3 separate regions of the Homo sapiens genome follow, and all the other regions are linked to region 1. The links come from fine-mapping of genetic effects on gene expression. A gene starts in region 1. Each other region holds a variant in brackets. All regions are shown on one strand. Distances are from middle to middle. Region 1 holds the start of CD84 (CD84 molecule). Region 2 overlaps CD84 (CD84 molecule). Region 3 overlaps SLAMF6 (SLAM family member 6).

Evidence for each region. PIP is the estimated chance that this variant, and not a neighbour inherited with it, causes the effect.
Region 2: its variant is the best candidate, but not a certain one, in a credible set for the expression of CD84 in whole blood (INTERVAL, PIP 0.59).
Region 3: its variant is the best candidate, but not a certain one, in a credible set for the expression of CD84 in whole blood (TOPMed, PIP 0.89).

What each region holds. Positions count from the first base shown.
Region 1 is chr1:160,577,799-160,582,046 of GRCh38, reverse strand. It overlaps CD84 (CD84 molecule), which reads left to right and starts at 2,551. Exons shown (of 7, transcript NM_003874.4): 1 at 2,551-2,655. The coding sequence starts at 2,610.
Region 2 is chr1:160,538,228-160,542,475 of GRCh38, reverse strand. CD84 (CD84 molecule) reads left to right here. Exons shown (of 7, transcript NM_003874.4): 7 at 1-1,378. All of the region lies in intron 1 of CD84-AS1 (CD84 antisense RNA 1), which reads right to left. Among named protein-coding and RNA genes, the nearest start is that of CD84-AS1, 3.3 kb to the right of the region's middle. RefSeq lists enhancers at 1,983-2,277, 2,293-2,382. The variant A/G (reference allele first, on the strand shown) is at 2,084.
Region 3 is chr1:160,516,462-160,520,709 of GRCh38, reverse strand. The region is part of intron 1 of SLAMF6 (SLAM family member 6); the gene reads left to right. Among named protein-coding and RNA genes, the nearest start is that of SLAMF6, 4.7 kb to the left of the region's middle. The variant C/T (reference allele first, on the strand shown) is at 2,135.

The sequences.
Region 1 (4,248 bases):
AAGTCAGGAAATACCTTGCCAGTAAGGGACTGCGTTTTAAAGTTATTTTGATATTGGACAGTGCCCCTGGCCACCCAGAGCCCCAGGAGTTCAACAGCAAAGGCACTGAAATGGTATACTTCTCCCCAGACATGTTTCTAATTCAGCCTCTAGAACAGGGGGTCATAAGGACCTTTAAGGCTCATTATATACGTACTCTATGGAAAGAATTGTCAATGCCTAGGAAGACAACCCCAGGAGAGGGCCATCATGAAAGTCTAGAAAGATTACACCATTAAAGATGCTATCATTGTTGCAGAAAAAGTGGTGAAAGCCATTAAGCCTGAGACAATAAACTCTGCTTGAGGAAACTGTGTCCAAATGTTGTGCGTGACTTCACAGGATTTATGACAGAGCTAATCAAGGAAATTATGAAAGATATTGTGGATATGGCAAAAAAAAAAGTTGGGGTAAAAGGTTTCAAGAAATAAATCTTGGCAAAATTCAAGAGCTAATAGACACCACACCAGAGGAATTAATGGAAGATGACTTGATGGAGAAGAATGCATCTAAGCCAGGATCAAACAATGCGGAAGAAAACATAGAAGCAGCAGTGCCAGAAAACAAGCTGACATTAGACAGTCTGACAGAAGGCTTCTGACTATTCGGGACCGCTTTTGACTTCTTTTATGATATGGGCCCATCTATGGTATGATACAGGCACTAAAACTAAAACAAATGGTAGAAGTAAGAAGGGGTACCATATAGAAATATTTTTAGAGAAATGAACAAGCAAAAAAGTCAGACAAAAATTAAATATACTTCTGAAAAGTTACACCGACTGTGCCTGTCTCTTCCACCTTCCCTTCAACCTCCTCTATCTCTTCTTCCCCAGGGACCCCTGAGACAGCAAGACCAACTCCTCCTTATCCTCCTCCTCCTTAGCCTACTTAACATGAAGATGATGAGGATAAAGACCTTTATGATGATCTAATTCCACTTAATGAACAGTAAATATATTTTGTCTTCATCATGATTTTCTTAATACCATTTTATTTTCTCTAGCTTACTTTCCTGCAAGAATATGGTAAACAATGTATATGACACATAGAATATGTGTTAATCAACTGTGTTGTTGGTAAGGCTTCCTGTCAACAGTAGGCTATTAGTAGTTGAGTTTAGGGGTGTCAAAAGTTATGCATGGATTTTCGACTGGTTGAGGGGACAGCACTCCAAACCCCTGCATTGTTCAAGGGTCAACTATATTCAGTATTATGTAAGTATATATGGGAAATGATCAGCAGGATTATTTAATGTGTGACTCTAGAGGCCAGGTTACCTAGGAATGAGCTAGCTAGCATGAGGACTCGTCTCAGTTAAAAAAAAGCTCCTCCAGGTCTCAGGGGTAGTGTCCCCAGCCTTCTCATTACTCCCCAAAACAGCTGAGTCAAACTTAAATATTCATTTCTATCCCCATTCCCAGACAACATCTCCCATACACACATTACACAATCACTCTTATTCTTGTTAACCAAGATGAAGACCCTCTACAAGAAATAGTCCTGTTACATCTAGCTCAACTCCACCTAAGCCTGCCTCTGCACCTGCTGTCTCTCATGCCCAGGAGTCACAGTCTTTGCCAAGTGACACTGCTGGCTTTTAACTCAGTTCCCTAATTCACTGTGTGATATAGGGAAAAGTCACTTCCTCTCCTTCTGAGCCAGTTTCTCCATCTGCAAAATAGATTCAATAGTCTAAAAATCCCTTTTGACTTCATTTTTATCAAACACTTTTTGTGTCCCTAATAAGGTGTGATCATAATCATAATGTTTCATGATGATATCATGGAATTATACATAATTATATGTATGTAGTTATACTATATTATATATTAATATATTATATAATTATATATTATTGTATCATATATAAATATAATTATATATTATTAATATAATACTTAATATTGATTATGTTAAATAATATCACATGTTGATTATACATTATAATACATAATCATGTACTTGTGATCATTTTATATAACTATAATTATGTAATTTTAATTGCTATGTTTTTTTAAGCTCCTACCATATGTCAAAACATTTTTCCTCTTTCATATCCCCCACCGCCATTCGCCTAATAATGGTAATTCATTCTTTGAGCCTGTCTCAGGTTGGTTGTCAGTTTCTTTAGGAAGCCTACTCCAACTTTTCTTAGCCTGAGTTAGATGCCCCTATTCCTCTCATAGTTCCCTGTATTTTTCCTATTGCAATGCTTACTACATTAAATTGGAACTGCTTATAGAGTTGTTGATTACTCCAAAAAAGAGTATAAATGCCATGAAAGGAGGGTGATCAATTGTTTTGTTGCTCTGTATATTGCCAGCACCCAGAAGAGGGCCTGGCACATAGTAGGCACACAATAAATATGTGTTGAATAAATAATTAATGCTAGGCACTTTAAATTGGAAAAAACTAGCACAGTAATACAAAGACCAATGTTAACTAAATCAGTTAACATGCACTTCCTTTCTTAAATGTCGTTATAAAAAGGAGGAAGAAAACTCAAGTGAAACTGACTCTGCTAGAACAGTGCCGTGCTTTTCCACAGAAGGTTAGACCCTGAAAGAGATGGCTCAGCACCACCTATGGATCTTGCTCCTTTGCCTGCAAACCTGTGAGTTCTGACCCTTGCTGATCGCCTCCTAGTTTTCCATAAAGTTTTAAAAATTGCCCTTAAGGAAGACATTGAACTGTCTTTTTGATCTGTGTTTAGCAGAACACCCTGGGTCTCAGTATCTACTGTACTCAACAGGATCCAACTGGCTGGGGAGAGACTTAAAATTCAAACCTAAGTGTTTAGGTTCAGCTTTAAAGTTTATATTACTGAGTTATATTTCTGAGATCTGGAGATCTCAGTTTCCAAAGGTCTGAGGCAAATCCTTCTCAGAGGAATCAGCACTTGGTAAACCCACCCAAAAAGCCTGGCAAAAGAAAGATCTTCTAAAAGCTTGAATGACTTACAAGCAATTTCTTCTTGGCATTCAATTGTGATGGCGTTTGAGAGAGAAAAATGTCTTTCCTAATTATAGTTGATTGTTCTATCAGGTTAGAGTGATGGATGACTCATCGTTATCATTGTTGAGCCTCATCTCTATAAACTCCCTTTATTTTCAAAACACAGAGCTATTACTCTGCTTTTATCCTCAACAAACTCTAAAATAAATGAGGAAGAGATTACTATCCCATTTTTTACAAATAGTCTCAAAAAAGAGTTGGAGAACTTGAATTAAAAACCCTATTTTTCTTACTTATGGCATAACAGTAAACTAAAAGAACGACATGAATATTGATTGTTATTTGTACAAAGAAAATTGTAACATTAACATAGATCTGGGAGTGCTGTGTCATTGTACATGTTATCTCCTTAAATACAAACAATTGCTCTAACAGAAATTTACTATGTTTGGAACTTCTAGATCTACTTCTAGTATCTCTTGCCAGTTCTGAAAATGCACTAGCAGAATTCTGGCATGAGTTAGAACCCTGGGAACCTAGTACGTTTGGATTTTCTGTAAAGGTAGAATCAATGCACTGTGATCTCTCTGGTTTCTTTGGCCATTTCAAGCTATGGCTCCTTTAATTTGAACTTCATGGAGATTGTAACCACTAGTCAGACCAAATTTTTGGAGCCTCTGCTGGTCGCTCTAGAATGGCAGACAGAAAATGCAAGTAGATGAGGAATGGTACTAGGGATGTCCCTAATCTTCCAGAGAGAGACCAGACAAGGTAGCATTTGATACCACTTAATTTGCAAAACATTCTACAATGTTTATGCCTACATTCTTATGTCATCCATATGAAAACCATTGAGATGAGCAAGATAGACGTTATTAATCCCATTATGCAAGAAAAATAATAAATTAAGATTTAGGGGTTTAAAAATTCACCTGAAATTTCACTACCTAAATTGGTAGAGCTGGAAATAGACATTGGTTTTTCTAATTCCAAGGTTAATCCCAATCCCATTGGTTCTTCTTTCTGCTCCACCTGACCTCTTCACTCATTGCTTTCAAATTTTTGATGCTCTTCAAAAGGTTAATACCTGCTAAGATAAAAGGTAGCTCTAGGATACACTTCTTTCATCTACTGAAACTGAAATAAAGTTGTCAAATCAGCTAGTAGTGAATTGTTTACAAGTTTTGTGACCTAGACGAAGTTACATTCCTCCTCTGACTCTTGTTTCAGCTTCAAAATGGGGAGGTATTAA
Region 2 (4,248 bases), 40 kb after region 1:
GGTCATCTCTGCATAGATGTCAGAAGTCACCTCAAGTTTAGCGTGTCCAAAATCTAACTCACAGGTCTGTTTCTGACCTCCCAACTTGCTTTCCTTGTGTTTTTCCTATGCTAATGATCCACCATAATCAAAATAATTAACATTTATCCAGTGCCTACTATGTACTATTCCCTGTCCTGTTTTACATTTACTCATTTAAAGTCCATAAGAAACATTAAATCTCATCTGCCTTCTGAAGAAGATACAACCATGCTCTCTTTTACAAAGTAGGAAACTGGGTCACAGAAAGGTGAAGTCTTTAAGGCTGAATCACAGTAGCTCATCCTAGTAAATAGAAAAGCCAGGATTCAACTCCAGGGGCTGGGTGCAGAACTGCTATTCTTCACTGCTTCACCAATCAGCAGCTACCCAAGGCAGAAAACTTTTTCATCCTTGGCTCCTTCATTCTCCCTGTCACCCCAGATCCCCTCTACATCTAGTCAGAGAATAGGTCCTGTCAATTCCAACTTCTCTATATGGCTCCTCTCAGGCATGTGCCCTTAATTGGCCTAATTCTCTAATACACCTTCCCTCTACATGCTCACTCCCTCAGATCATTGCTTTATCACGTGTTACCTGGGTTGCTATTACATAAAGAGCAATCTTTCTAAAATGAGGATCTTATCACTTCACTTCCACACTAAAATGTTTTTCCTGGGGAACCACACTCCTTAGCAATCTGACCCATCAGACCTTCCAGGCTGTCTCCTGCCTGCTCCCTAAGGCTCCAGCCACACAGAATTATCATGGGCCCACACACCCACCAAATCCTCCCATGCCTTTGCCCATGTTGTCTGGGATGCCCTTCTCTCCCTTCTGTCTACATCAAGCATCAGACTGAATATCCCTCTTGTGCGGCCTTCTAAAACCTCCCGTCCAAAGCGAAATATATTGCCCTCTATTTATACTTTTACAGCATTTGGCACACAAGTACAGAGTAGTAGCTTTTTATCACATTCTCTGATAATTATATAGATATGGTATTTCTTAGCTCTCTCTCCAACTGGCTAATAAGTTGCTTTTTGTCTGAGTGCCTAATTTTGTGTTTTGTGTCTGAGTGCCTCAGTTCCTCAAAAAAAGGTTTTTTGATTAGTTCATTATTCATTTGAACATGGAAATTATGCTCACTAGTGGCAAATGCCACTAACCGTATTCCAGAAGCTAGGTGTCATGTTTGCAATAAGATATATTATCCCTTCTACAAGTCACCTTTTATTTCAGGCATTTGTAAATGCCCATTAATAAAGTATGGTTCATAAATTTTACCTTGTAAGTGCCTAAGAAATGAGACTACAAGCTCCATTTCAGCAGGACACAATAAATATTATTTTATAATGCATCTATTTTGTGTTTTACTTTGTTTTGGTTTTTGAGAGCAACAAAAATGAAGTAAACAGATGAAACAGCAAAGGAGACAGTCCACATGATAAAAGCCCTGTGCTGTCTGAAAACCCAGGCCCTGAGTGGACACAAGAGACCAAGGGATTGAGGGTATAAGACAGACAAAGAAAAAAAGAAAAGCTGATGTAGAGAGATGATTGGGACCTTGAGAGGAGACTGAGAAGCTAGAGACAGGAAGGACAAATGCCAGAAACAGAAAAAACCCGGAGGGCAGCAGAGGTGCTTGGTTAAGGTGGAGAAGAGAGTTCTGCCTTGGTCAACCTAGAGAGAGGAAATTGAGGACTTAAATCACGTTTTGGGGGTCATCTCCCTCCAGGGAAGAAGCTTTGTCTTATTCATTTTTCACTCACAGTGCCCTATCACAGGAGCCAATGCCTAGCAGAGCTTAGTAAGTATTTGTTGAACTGAATTTGGATTGGCACCCACATATCAGAAGAGGAAAGAGAGTCCTGGAAACCACATTCAGAGTCCGAGTCCCAAATTGGAGAGTAGAAATTCTCTGTGTCACCCATAGTGCCACTTGGAGGAAAGGGATAAAAAGACTGGGCTTTTAACTGAGGAGAATGAGGTTGTGGTTTCCACAGAACTGTAGGTGCAGGGCCTCTGAATGTTTGGTAAACACTGAAGGGGAGGTGACTTACTA[A/G]CAGGCGCTGTGAGATAGCAAATGGTTTTTAGGCCTGAGACAAAACCACTTCCTCTATTCCCTGCTTATCAGAGGCCACAGCTGCTCTGTTCTGAGCCAGCGTTTGCAGATAAGCCTGGTCTTCCAGCTCCCCACCTACATCTTCTTGTGGGGTTGAAATTGACTGCTACCCATGTAGAATTTCGGAGTCCCTGTGTAGAAACTCTGTAGGCAGATACAGCAACCGTTTGAGAAGATAAATTTCGCTAGTGTTTCTCCAGTGCTTTCTGAGGTTTGGCACATTTCATTTCATTTCATCTACACATTAGCCATAGGACTTTCAGCTTGAAATTACCTCCACCTCCTTACCCTCACTACCTCCAATACACAGCTTCACTCATTCACACAATGCCCATTCATTCTTCTGGGATAAGCTCAAGCGTCCCTTCCTGGGGGGAAGTTTTCCCTGTTCCTCCAGGCCATATCTGATGCCCGTGTTTTGCGCTCATAGTACAACACCTCTTGCCTTTACAGCAGTTTTCAATTTTGTCTTTAAATATTTCTCCCTGTGATTATTTTATTAATTCCTCTCTTCCGTCACTGGACTGTGAGTTCCATCAGGACACAGATCATGCGTGGTTTTGTCACCATTTGTATCCACAGTGCCTGACCCAGTGCAAGTAGTCCTCAATTTGTAATACTTTAATTATTGAAGACGCAATAGCTTATCAGCCTTTAACTGTGTTAGCTGGCATGTTACAATCCTTTGGCATATGTATCAACGACAAAGCCAGGTATACTGTTTATTTCTGAAGTATATTACCTTCATAGATTCTATAAAACCCTTGGTTGGAAATGCACTAGAAAATATTGATTTTACCTGCTATGCAGGAGACACAGAAGAGTTAACACAGCAGGGCTAAAACTGCTGTCCTTTGAAGGGCATGCTTATAAGGTTGGCCCTTGGCTGGTGTCTGAGAACTTGGACTTTGGGACGGTTCCTACCATTCCCTGATAAGAATTCCCTGATAAGGTACTTACACTGTACCTAAATTGTTGGCACAACAATTTGTTTTTTGCTGAATATCTGCTTTCTTTCTTGGATTCTGGAATTTTGGTGCATGCTAGGTAGAGGGTGCCTACGTTACTGCCTGCAGAGAAAAACCCTAAATGCCTAGGCTCCATCGAGCTTCTTTGGTAGATTACATTTCAAACATGACACAACATGTTGTTGAAGGAATTACATACATCCTGTTTGACTCCACTATGAGAGGACTCTAGAAGCTTGCACCTGGTTTCCTCTGGACTTTGCCCTTTTGCCTTTGCTGATTTTCTTTGTGTTTATTCACTGTAATAAATCGGCCATGACTATGGCTATATGCTGAGTCTTGTGAGTCCTCCTACTGAATGACTGAATCTGGGGGTGGTCTTGAAAACCCCAACACAACTCCTGAATGTCACTACAATCTATCTACCTCTCTTTCACCACTAACTACAGTAGTCCAGGTTGCCATCATCTCTTACCCAGACAATAGCACTTGACCTCTTGCAGTCGTGCCTGCTCCCAGTCCAATCCATTCTCTACACCACAACCAGAGTGATCTTTCCAAAACACAAATAATGGTTATATTGGCCATGCTAATGTCATCTGGTGGCAGAAAGGACCAATGGATTGCTGTGGTATAAGGCTTTGTATATGTAATAACTTATAAGTTGAAAATTTATAATTAAGCCCTGGCACAGTGGCTCACGCCTGTATTGGGAGGCTGAGGTGGGTGGATTACTTGAGGCCAGGAGTTCAAGACCAGCCTGGTCAACATGGTGAAACCCCGTCTCTACTAAAAGTACAAAAACAAAAAAAAAAAAAAGCCGGGTGTGGTGGCACACACCTGTAGTCCCAGCTACTTGGAAGGCTGAGGCACGAGAATTGCTTGAACCCGGGAGGCAGAGGTTGCAGTGAGCTGAGATGGTGCCACTGCACTCCAGCCTGGGCAACAGAGCAAGACTCTTTCTCAAAAGAAAGAAAAGAAAGAAAAAAAAAAGAAAAGGAAAGGAAAGAAAGAAAGAGAGAGAGAAAGTTAGTTTATAATTAGAAGAAATTCTTTAACCTGAAAAAAAATGGAAAGATATTCAGTGGTCTAATTGCCAAAAGTGTACCAGCCTAGATGGTCTTAAGGGCTAGTCCT
Region 3 (4,248 bases), 61 kb after region 1:
AGACAAACCATATTGAAAAATAATCCCATTTCCTTTAACTCAAGCCCTGGGTGGCAAAACTAACAGAACAAAACAATAATTGTAAATAAAATCAAGCATCATGACTTCCTAGAGAAAATAAATCTCGTTTGTTTCTTCATTTTGATTTTTATAGATGGAAAGTTGGAAATTTGTCAAACTTAAATGTGCATATAAATTACTTGGGGGAATCTTATTAAAATGCTGATTGGGGAATAGGGACTGAGATTCTGCATTTCTAAGAGGCTCCCAGGTGACACCAATGCTGCCTGTCCATGGACCACACTAAGCAGCAAGGTTCTAAATTCCAATGGACTTCAGTCATACTGGGATTGTAGGGAGGAAGAAATAGAAACTAACTTTGAGTGTGTTTGCAGGAAGCAGATATAGGTATTCTGAGGTCCAGGAGAGAGCAGTGGTTGGAAATGTAAGTAAAGCAAACACATGAGGGCTGATTCTGAGGTTGAGTCAAAATGTGCAATGCTCTTCTGTGAAGAGATTGTGACCTGATGGCCCCCGAGCAGTGTTATCTACTTTTTACCAACCGTCCACATCTTTCAAATGTTTATTGTGCTCAACAGGCAGAGAGCTGTTTTATATTTTTTCATTATCCTCAGACACGTGTTTTTCCACCTCTCAGAATCTGCAATCTCCAATGTGACCTCCAGGTGTTCATGCCTCTGTTTTTGGTCCCTTAACCCAGATTCAGCTTTGATTGTTTCTCTGTTCACACTCAGACATTTTTTATTAAGGTGAAATTCTTGTAACAGGATGTAATAATTTTAAAGTGACATTTTGTACATTTTGTGAAACCACCACTTCTATTATTCTAAAACATTTTCATCACCCCAAAAGGAAACCCTGTACCCACTAAGCAGTCATTTCCCATTCTCCCCTCCCCCCCAGCCCCTGGCAAATACCGATCTGCTTTCTGTCTCTGTGGGTTTACCTATTCTGGATAATTTCATATAAATGAAATCACACAATATATGACCTTTCGTGTCTGACTTCTTTCACTTAGCATCATGTTTTCCAGGTTCACCTATGCTGAACCATGTATCAGTACTTCATTCCTTTTTGGCTGAATAGTATTTTGTATTCTGTATATACTACATTTTATTTATCCATTTATCTATCAGTGGACACCTGGGTTGTTTTTGCCTTTTGGCTCTTGCGAATAGTGCTGCTATGTGTACAAGTATTTGACTACCTGTTTTTATCTGGGTATATACCTAGGAATGGATTTGTCAGATCATATAATTCTATGCTTAACTTTTTGGGAAATTGCCAAACTGTTTTCCACAATGGCTGTACCATTTTACATTTCCACTAGCTGTGTACAAGAGTTATAATTTCTCCACATCCTCATCAACACTTGTTTTTTTCCTTTTTAAAAAGATTATTATCACCATCCTAATAGGTGTGAAGTGGTATATTATTGTGGTTTTGATTTACATTTTCCCAATGACAAATGATTTTGAGTATCTTTTTAAGTGTTTATTGGCCATTTGTATATCCTCTTTGGAGAAATGTCTATTCAAGTCCTTTGCCCATTTTAGTTGAATTATTTGTCTTTTTGCTATTGAGTTATAAGAGTTGTTTATACATTCTTGGAACCAGACCTTTAATACATGACCTGAAAATATTTTCTCCCATTCTGTAGGTTGTCTTTTCACTTTCTTAATAATGTTCTTTGATGCACAAAAGTCTTTAATTTTGATGAAGCACAATTTACCTATTTTTATCTTTTTTCTTTTTTATCATTTTATTTTAAGTTCCAGGATACACGTGCAGGATATGCAAGTTTGTTACATAGGTAAACATGTGCCCTGGTGGTTTGCTGCACCTATCAACCTCACCTAAGTATTAAGCCCTGCATACATTAGCTATTTTTCCTGATGCTCTCTCTCCCCCCTGCCCCACCCCCGACAGGCCCCAGTGTGTGTCATTCCCCTTCTTGTGTCCATGTGTTCTCATTGTTCAGCTCCCACTTAAAGAACATGCGGTGTTTGGCTTTCTGTTCCTGCATTAGTTTGCTGAGAATAATGGCTTCTGGCTTCATCCATGTCCCTGCAAAGGACATGATTTCATTCCTTTTTATGGCTGCATAGTATTC[C/T]GTGGTGTATACGTACCACATTTTCTTTATCCGGTCTATCATTGATGGGCATTTGGGTTGATTTCATGTCTTTGCTATTATGAATAGTGCTGCAATGAAGATACACGTGCAATGAACATGCACATACACATATCTTTATAACAATGATTTATATTCTTTTGGGTATATACCCAGTAATGGGATTGCTGGGTCAAATTGTCTTTCTGCCTCTAGGTCTTTGAGGAGTCCCCGCATTGTCTTCCAGAATAGTTGAACTAATTTACATTCCCACCAACAGTGTAAAAGAGTTTCTATTTCTCCACAGCCTTGCCAGCATCTGTTTTTTCTTGACTTCTAAATAATTGCCATTCTGACCTGTGTGAGATGGTATCCCATTGTGGTTTTGATGTGCATTTCTCTAATGACCAGTGATGTTGAGCTTTTTTCCATGTTTCTTGGCCACATAAATGTCTTCTTTTTTTTTTTAACACCTGAAGAGTAAGTTTAATGGAATTCATAGTTACAGATATTCAGAAAATATTTGTTGGGGGAACTAATTAATACATTTCTTTCTTTTAATTTTTATTTTTAGTTCTGGGTACATGTGCAGTATGTGCAGGTTTGTTACATAGGTAAACCTGTGCCCTGGTGGTTTGCTGCACCTACCAACGCATCACCTAGGTATTAAGCCCAGCATGCATTATCTATTTTTCTTAATGCTCTCCCTCCCCCAACCCCACTCCCCAAGAGGCCCCAGTGCATGTTGTTTCCCTCCCTGTGTCCATGTGTTCTCACTGTTCAGCTCCCACTTACAAGTGAGAACATGCAGTGTTTGGTTTTCTGTTCTTGTATGAGTTTGCTGAGGATAATGGCTTCCAGCTTCATCCACATTCCTGCAAAGGACATGATCTCATTCCTTTTGATGGCTGCATAGTATTCCATGGTGTATATGTTCCACATTTTCTTTATCTCGTCTGTCATTGATGGGCATTTTGGTTGATTCCAGGCCTTTGCTATTGTGAATAGTGCTGCAATGAACATATGCATGCATATATCTTTGTAACAGAGCGATTTATATTCCTTTGGGTATATACCCAGAAATGGGATTGCTGGGTCAAATGGTATTTCTGGTTCTAGATCTTTGAGGATTTGCCACACTGTCTTCCACAATGGTTGAACTAATTTACATTCCCAACAGTGTAAAAGTGTTCCTATTTCTCCAGAACCTCACAAGCATCTGTTGTTTCTTGACTTTTTCATAATCACTATTCTGTCATGAGATGGTAATTTATTGTGGTTTTCAATTGTATTTTTCTAATGATCAGTGATGTTGAGCTTTTTTTCATGTTTGTTGGCTGCATGAATGTCTTCTTTTGAGAAGTGTCTGTTAATGTCCTTTGCTCGCCTTTTAATGGGGTTGTTTGATTTTTTTCTTGTAAATTTGTTTGAGTTCCTTGTAGAATCTGGATATTAGACCTTTAACAGATGAATAGATTGCAAAAATTTTCTCCCACTCTGTAGGTTGCCTCTTGGCTCTGATAATAGTTTCTTCTGCTATGCAGAAGCTCTTCAGTTTAACTAGATCCCATTTGTCAATTTTTGCTTTTGTTGCAATTGCTTTCAGTGATTTCATAATGAAATCTTTGCCCATGCCTATGTCCTGAATGGCATTGCCTAGATTGTATTCTAGGGTTTTCATAGTTTTGAGTTTTACATTTAAGTCTTTAATCTATCTTGAGTTAATTTTTGTATAAGGTGTGAGGGAGGGGTCCAGTTTCAATTTTCTGCATATGGATAGCCAGTTCTCCCAGCACCAGTTATTAAATAGTGAATCCTTTCCCCATTGCTTGTTTTTGTCACGTTTTTTGAAGATCAGATAGTGGTAGATGTGCAGTCTTATTTATGGGTTCTCTATTCTGTTCCATTGGTCTATGTGTCTGTTTTGTACCAGTACCATGTACCGTGCTGTTTTGGTTATTGCTGCCTTATAGTATTGTTTGAAGTCCAGTAGCATGATGCCTCCAGCTTTGTTCCTTTTGCTTAGGATTGTCTTGGCTATATGAGCCCTTTTTTGGTTCCATATAAATTTTAAAATAGTTTTTTCTAATTTTGTGAAAAATGTCAATGATAGTTTA